2 linked regions of the Homo sapiens genome follow. The protein of the gene in region 2 purifies or fractionates together with the protein of the main gene of each other region. This does not show direct contact. Each region holds a gene or a part of one and is shown on either strand. Other genes may lie near its edges. The genes, in order: ODR4 and CYP3A7.

What was found.
Region 1: the proteins of CYP3A7 (region 2) and ODR4 purify together in Homo sapiens (affinity purification with mass spectrometry, with the first as the bait; one large-scale study listed by BioGRID). This does not show direct contact.

What each region holds. Positions count from the first base shown.
Region 1 is NC_000001.11:186,413,810-186,417,627, reverse strand, and holds part of ODR4 (protein odr-4 homolog), read right to left. Parts: intron 85-3,818; coding exon 1-84. UniProt on the Homo sapiens protein: May play a role in the trafficking of a subset of G-protein coupled receptors.
Region 2 is NC_000007.14:99,732,090-99,736,493, forward strand, and holds the start of CYP3A7 (cytochrome P450 3A7), read right to left. Parts: upstream 3,108-4,404; 5' UTR 3,005-3,107; coding exon 2,934-3,004; intron 1-2,933. Other genes in the region: CYP3A7-CYP3A51P protein, read right to left, coding at 2,934-3,004. UniProt on the Homo sapiens protein: A cytochrome P450 monooxygenase involved in the metabolism of steroid hormones and vitamins during embryogenesis.

The sequences.
Region 1 (3,818 bases), on a different chromosome or scaffold from region 2:
TTGTAGTTTTAATTGGTTGTTTTGGTTGTTCATCATCTGTGTTGTCCAATGAAGCTTGACTATTCATAGAAGAACTCATACAAGCTGAAAGGGTATAATAATAATAAATTCCACATAAAATAAGGATTAACACATGAAACTGAGCTTTAAAGAACATTATAAAAAACTATACGATCATCACCATTTTCTTTCTACTTGTTTTTTATATAACATACTGAATTTGTTCATTATCAATTGTAGGTGAATTAAATTTAATAGAATATACGTCAAATTAACAGTTTTCAAAACAATGTAGCTTTATCATTGAACTAAACCAGAGGGCCACACAGCCAGTTCTGAATGACTTTCAAAAATTGTGATTTGTTGGCCAGGCATGGTGGCTGACGCCTGTAATCCCAGCACTTTGGGAGGCTGAGGCAGGCAGAGTGCCTGAGCTCAGGAGTTCAAGACCAGCCTGGGCAACACAGTGAAACCCCGTCTCTACTAAAATACAAAAAATTAGACGGGCATGGTGGTGTGCACCTGTAGTCCCAGCTACTTGGGAGGCTGAGGCAGGAGAACTGCTTGAACCCGGGAGACGGAGGTTACAGTGAGCCGAGATTGCACCACTGCACTCCAGCCTGGGTGAAAGAGCGAGACTCTGTCTCAAAAAAAAGTAACAATAATAATAATTTGTTTACTATATAGTAGTAGAGATAAATTTATACCAAAATTCATAGCAGAGTAAACTTCGCTCTTGAGATTAATTTACTTTTTTTTTTTTTTTTTTTTTGAGACAGAATCCTACTCTGTCACCCAGGCTGGAGTGCGGTGGCATGATCTCAGCTCACTGCAACCTCTGCCTCCCAGGTTCAAGTGATTCTCCTGCCTCAACCTCCTGAGTAGCTGGGATTACAGCCGCCTGCCACCACACCTGGCTAATTTTTGCATTTAAATTTAATTTAATTTATTTATTTGAGACAGAGTCTTGCTCTGTTGCCTAGGCTGGAGTGCAATGGCGTGGTCTCAGCTCACTGCAACCTCCACCTTCCAGGTTCAAGCAATTCTCCTGCCTCAGCCTCCCGAGTAGCTGGGACTACAGGGGTGCACCACTATGCCCGACTAACTTTTGTATTTTTAGTAAAGATGGGGTTTTGCCATGTTGGCCAGGCTGGTCCCCAACTCCTGACATCAGGTAATCTGCCCACCTTGGCCTCCCAAAGTGCTGGGATTATAGCCATGAGCCATCACACCTGGCCTAATTTTTGTATTTTTAGTTGAGATGGGATTTCACCATGTTGGCCAGGCTGGTCTCGGACTCCTGACTATAAGTGATCTGCCTGTCTCGGCCTCCCAAAGTGCTGGGATTACAGGTGTGAGCCACCATGCCCAGTCTAATTTATATCATTATTGGTGGTTTTAGCAATTAATAATTTCAAATAATTAGATATTAATAATAAAACCACTGACCAGCACGTTGCAGTACATGGGCCTCTGGCTCATGACCTATTTTTGTAAAAGCTCTTAAACTAAAAATCTGTTTTTCATATTTTTAAAAGACTGTAAAAAAAAAATGTGAAAAAGACCTTATGCGGCTCACAAAGCCTAAAATATTTATTTGTACAAAAAAAAGTTTGCTGACTCTGGATCCAACTTGAAATTGAAACTATGATCAAAAATTTGACCTTGAAACAACTCAGAATGGTAAGCAAGGCAAGGACATCATCGCATTTTACAAATGGAAAACATAACCTGGGAGGTTAAAGTGCATTTCGACCATCACAGGCATTTGACTGATGATTTGGACACAAGTTCTCTTTCTACTTCATTATGCTGACAGCAATTTATGCAGGTTGGCCTATCCGAATTTATTTAATGCTGAATGAAAGTGTGTGAACTGATAGCATCCTCAGAGACCACACAGGCTAATAGTTTTCTGTTTTTTTCCCCTAGGACTGAAGAATCCTATGAAAACAAAGAAAATCTGACAGAAATTCCCAGTGTGTAAAAAAGATGAAAGTATGCTACCCAGGCTGAAGCTGGGAGGGAGGACTCCTGGAGTCAGACCAGCTTCTTTCTTCCATCCTAGAGGTGACATTAGAATGCTACTCTATAGAACTCCAGGGAACTAGATTATGAAAGCAACTACTTTAGATTTATCTGTTTATTTACCCTCACCCCCACAAAAAAGAGAGAGAGAACTCAAGAGAGATAGTAAATATTACTGTTTAAATTTAAAGTAAAATAGCCTATTGTTGAATTTACAATGTTCTTATAGACATCTTTGCACCCCAATATGGGAGCACAAGCTCAAAAGAATGACATATAAACTTACTGAAATAGGTATATATGATACTAAAATGGATGAAAAAGAAAAAAAATTACCTACTTCTCATTAATTTCTCACAAAGAAAAGTTTATGATTTTCATAAACAATTCCTAGTAACTATCTTATTAGAAATAAGGGCACCACTATTCTTTTTTCTTTTTCTTCTTCTAGCATTTAACTAAAATACTTTAAAAACAAAAAACAAAAAAACCCTCCCCCCTTTTTTTTTCTATTCTCATATCAAACCAGTCACAAAGAAAAACAAATTCTTATGAACTGTCTCTAGGAATATCTAGTCTTCTATATTTCCAGTTTGTAGTTTTCTCAAGGGCTATAATACTTCAGTTCTAGACTATATTAGCTCAGTAATTTAAAATTTCTTCCAACTTCAGTCCATAGGTCTAAAAATTGAATGGCTCATACAATTTTACATCAAATAAAAACAAAAACAAACTTCGGCTCTTCTATGAGCAAATATCTCTGTTAAAAAGGTATTTTTTGGCCGGACGTAGTGGCTCACGCTTGTAATCCCAGCACTTTGGGAGGCCGAGGCGGGCAGGTCACGAGGTCAGGAGATCGAGATCATCCTGGCTAACATGGTGAAACCCCGTCTCTACTAAAAATACAAAAAAATTAGCCAGGTATGGTGGCAGGCACCTGTAGTCCCAGCTACTCAGGAGGCTGACGCAGGAGAATGGCGTGAACCCAGGAGGCAGAGCTTGCAGTGAGCCAAGATAGTGCCAGTGCACTCCAGCCTGGGCAACAGAGCAAGACTGTCTCAAAAAAAAAAAAAAAGGTTTTTGTTTTTTTCCCCCATATTTGGGCCAATAAAATCCTTATATCAGATAACAAACAAAAATAATGGATGGTATGAATTATACCTGTTTGCTATAGGAAATTTATTACTTGAATACTTGCATATAAAAAAACAAAATTGTTTTAGTTGTCATAATATATTACTTATATATTTAATATTGAATTATTACATATGAAGATCATGCTCTAGAAGATCGTACTCTGAGCAAATAATTTACTTTCATAAAAGACATTTCATTGCCCTATTTCCATTTTTAAATCTGTCATACAAAATCATGAGGTTTGATACAAATTTGAGATAATTTTACCGAAGCAGAATGTTTTTCAATAATGAATAAGGCCTTATCACAGCAATTTATTTGTCTGTTTATTTTTGGTGGGGGCTTGTAGGATTTTTAAACCAAATCTCAGGCACTGTGTTATTTCACCAATATTTTAATATATTACAAGAAATTTAAATGCAAATAACACAGTGATTCAATAGAACACTAGATCTCAACCATTCCTTAAAACCAAGTCATTTCAAATTCAGACAAATCGAAAACTGATCATGTTAAGAGTATTCTTGAGCAGCTGTCAAAAAGAGAGAGAAAACAAGGGCTGTGAATGCATGCAAAAGTTGCAGACGTGTTCAGATTTCATTCCAAGCTGCTGATAGGTAGGCAGAACTATTTAGAAGCTTAAAATGAAATGT
Region 2 (4,404 bases):
AGATGGTGGTTGTATCTTAGAGGCAGTTTCTCATGGTTTCACACCATCCCCCTTGGGTGCTGTCCTCTTGACAATGAGTTTTTATGAGATCTGGTGGTTTATAAGTGTGTGGCACCTCCTCCCCACCCTCTCTTGCTTCTGCTCCAGTCATGTAAGATCTGCCTGCTTCTTTTTCACCTTCTGCCATGATTGTAAATTTCCTGAGGGCACCCTAGCGGCAGAAGTCGCTATGCTTCCTGTAGAGCCTGCAGAACCATGAGCCAATTAAATCTCTTTCCTTTCTAAATTACCCACCCTGAGATTTTTTTTTATAGCAATGGAAGAAAAGACTAATACAGCCAGACATGCTCATTTTTTTTCAAGGTGATCAATTACAAAGCAGTCAGTTTATTGCGTCTGCACATCAACTGTCTCTGTAGGAAAACCCATCAAGGCTGCTGCTCCCTATAGCAGGCCTGCTTGCAACCCATCTTTGATGGGCCATGTATGGACTTCCCCAACTGGGGATTCTGGATATCTGAAGACCTTCCCAGTTTGAGGTTACTGAGGGGTGGAAGACTGGATGAAGCAGAAAAGTTGATGGAAGAGGTAGCCAGCCATCAATTCAACCATGAATCTGCTAGTCCCACAAGCTTGGCCCCAGACAGGCAAATTAGGAAAATGTGGTTCAAAAGTACGGTGTGTATAAATGGATCCATATGCCTCATATGTGCTTTCAGCTGAAAGGCAGGCACCTTCTAATGGCCAGGTACCTTCCTGTTGATAGCAAAAGATGGAGTATTCCACATAAGTAACCATAAAATGTTCCAGATAGTTGAATTAAGACCTTGTTTTCTCTTCTTTAAAGGGTAGCCATTAAGGCAGTATAGGTTCCAAACATTCTGTACAAATCCAGTGACTCTGATAATATGTGGTAAAATACAACTAAGAAACAGCATGGAGGCTCGTGTTTGGAGAACCCAGCAGAGACAGCATAGCCAGGCCCAATAGTGCATTTGGATCCTTGCCCCAGAATAGTTAGTGGAAGTGTGTGCACCATCTACCACAACCAGGGTGGCCTTGGGTTTTCCCACTCCTGTTCCTTCCTTTGTTGTCACAGCCATGGAAAATCAATGGCACTAATCTCTGCTTCTAAACTTTCTACATGTTACATGATCTCTCAGGCCAGGACAAACTATTGAGTTAATGTGTGAGCAGCATTGGCCCCCGAGGAAAGATCTAGGTGAGTGTCTAGATTCACATGATTCCACGTCAAGGCAGAGGCTGTGCTTGGCAAACTGTTTAGTTTCTTTCCAGCTCCCCTCTGTTTGGTAGAGTAATGCTGCTTTTTGTTACAATGAAGAGGCTAACAGAAAAATCCATCATCTATTGCATGTAATTGTATAGGCCTAAGAAGGGCATGGTCTACACTATAGCTTCTGAATCCTGGGCTGTACCGGCATCGTCTAAGGCTAAGGTATTGTCTGCCTGACTGCCAGAATCTGTAGTGACAGCCCCACAACATGGCCAGCCACACACAGAGTGACACTGATGGTGCCCTTGTGTCCAGGCTTCAAGCAGATGAGATGCCAACATGTTTGTCCTTCAAGTGACCTCCACTAGGGGGCCAGGACCCATGAATATCTATTTGGAGTTCTACCCTGAGGGGTAAGGAATATTTTCTCACTTCATCTTGATCCTACCTGGATGCTTTTGCTATCATCACTGGCTCACAGTCTTGCTTACTTTCTAGCCCTGAGAGTTTAGGATAACCTGCTAAGCAGGTGTATTTGAAATGGGGGTATTAAAATAAACTCTTGGGAAAGTATTTTTAAAAAGACATATGCAGTCTTGTCCTAGAGATATATATTTGTACATTAGACTCATATTCCTGACATTATTCTGGAAAGGTGAGGTTATCTTATACACATTTATTGTCACAAATACTGAACTAATAGCCCTCTTTTATCACTCAGAAGGAACATGCTGGAAATAGTCTATCTCCAAAAAAATCTGGCTTTAAAAAGGATGAATTTAAGCCACACCAATTCATGTTAAATTGCCAGTAGATGGAAACTATGTTACCACAACTCACTGAATTGCTAACTTTTCTGTGAAAGAATTAAAACGAGGTTTGTATTTTCTGTTTCCATGTGACCATGATTCCTTACTCTTAATAACTGTGAAATTGAGTTAGAAGTAAAATGTGACAGGCGGGAAGCCTCCAGTACACACAGTAGGGAGTGACTCTTCTCTCCACCTGCTCTAGGATGCCAGGATCTCACTGGTGAGAAGATTCACCCTCTTCTCCTGCAACTTAAAGGGAAAAATGTAAAATCCAAATTCTGGTTTGGTAAGCTGGGTACAAACCATTGTCTATTAGATTATCCTCAATCAATGCTGTCCCTAAACCCTTCTTTCCACTAAAGATGAATGGGGGAGATGCTTATTTATTCCTTTATAGATCTGCAAAACATCCATCATAACCTCTATATGTTTGTAGCATCCAACACTTAAGCTACTTCTCCTTGAAAATCTTTTTTTTTCTTTTTTTTCTCTTTTTTTTTTTTTGAGATGGAATCTCACTCTGTTACCCAGGCTGGAGTGCAGTGGCATGATCTCAGTTCACTGCAACCTCCGCCTCCCAGGTTCAAGCAATTCTCCTGCCTCAGCCACCCAAGTAGCTGGGACTACAGTTATGCACTACCATGCCCAGCTAATTTTTGTAATTTTAGTAGAGATGGGGTTTCACCATATTAGCCAGGCTGGTCTTGAACTCCTGACCTCAGGCAGTCCACCTGCTCAGCATCCCAAAGTTCTGGGATGACAGGTGTGAGCCACCACGGCCAGCCTGAACATCCTTTTTGCTATTCAAAACAGATAAGGGAAAGAGAGGCCTGATTAGCACCCCAAGTCCAAGGAAACAGAGAAGAGGAGCCTGAACAGTTACTCACAGATAGAGGAGTATCAGGCTGACAGCCAGGAGAAGCCAGGTTTCCACGGCCAAGTTTGGGATGAGATCCATCACTACTTTCCTTCCTTATCTCTCTCCTCTGAGTCTTTTTTTCAGCAGCGTGCTGCTGTTTGCTGGGCTGTGTGTGTGGAGCTTTCCTGCCCTGCACAGCAGTGATTCAGTGAGGCTGTTGGATTGTTTATATGCTGGAGAAGGAGGCAGGGCTGGAGCTGCAGCCAGTAGCAGGGCCCCCGTGCTCTGCCTGCAGTCGGAAGAGGCTTCTCCACCTCGGCAGTTGGCAAATAATCACACACACACCACTCACTGACCTCCATTGAGTTAATATTCTATGTAGAATCATACACAACTCAATCAATGTTACTGGGGAGTCCAAGGGTTCTGGGTTCTTATCACAAACTCAAGTGGAGCCATTGGCATAAAATCTATTAACTCTCCTCTTGTCTCTATGGCTGTCCTCATTCCAGAATACTTGAAACTCATCCCAACAAGCCATGCCTACAGATCTTTACCTATGCCTGGAGTGTGCCTGTGCCCCCTAGAAGACTCCTACACATCCTTTCATACCCAGCCAGACAGAGCCTTCTCTTAGAGTCTTTCCTCACCAACCCCCTCACACAGAAGTAACCATTTCCTCCCCTGGGCACTTTCCATCCCCTTCATGCAGTTCTATTGTCTTCTTTCCTCTTTACCACCATTGTGTGTTTCCAGGCCTGTTTCCCTTAGCAGAGGTGAGCTCCTCAAGGGCATAGTCTGGTCTTACTCACTCTCATGGCTCTGGTCCCTATCAGGGTGCTGTACACACAGTGGGGACCAGAAAGGCTGGTGGAGTTGACTTGGCTGAGATTGCTGGGCCCCTGTGTGTCACTTCCTCTGACTTTCTGGTGACCACTCCATCTTCTTAGGTCATTAATACAGCCAGAGCTCTTGGCTGTGCCTCAGCTGCTGTCTCTGCACTTTCAGATTTGTCCTCTGTGATTCTGTTGGCAAGAGGACCCCTAAAAAAGAGACATGGCATGGATGAGATGGAGCTGATGGCTTAGTGGAATAGCATCAATTTGTGCTTCTTCCTCTGTAGCTTTCAAAAGTCCTGCCGTAGATAGAAAGTTAGACAGGTTCTTTGCCAAAGAGTGGCCCCTTCTCTCTGGAAATACTGCATGTCTGGAAACAGTAGGGGAGAAAGAAGAGAAGAGAACAGCTGCCCAGATGGCCAGGTTGACCCAAACCACCTCAGCCAGCAACAATGGGGCAGTGGTCACTGCAGGTCACACAGCATCAAGGACTCCAATGAGGTGGTCCCAGCCTCTTGAGGGTGGAATTGGAATTCAAAGCAAATGGCTTCCTTTTTGACAAGTGGAGGATTTTCTAATGGGAGGAGAGCAGGTGCCAGGAGCTGGTAGAGATGAGGCCTGTAATAACAGTTGCTGCCACCTGTGAGCCCTGTGACCCATTCC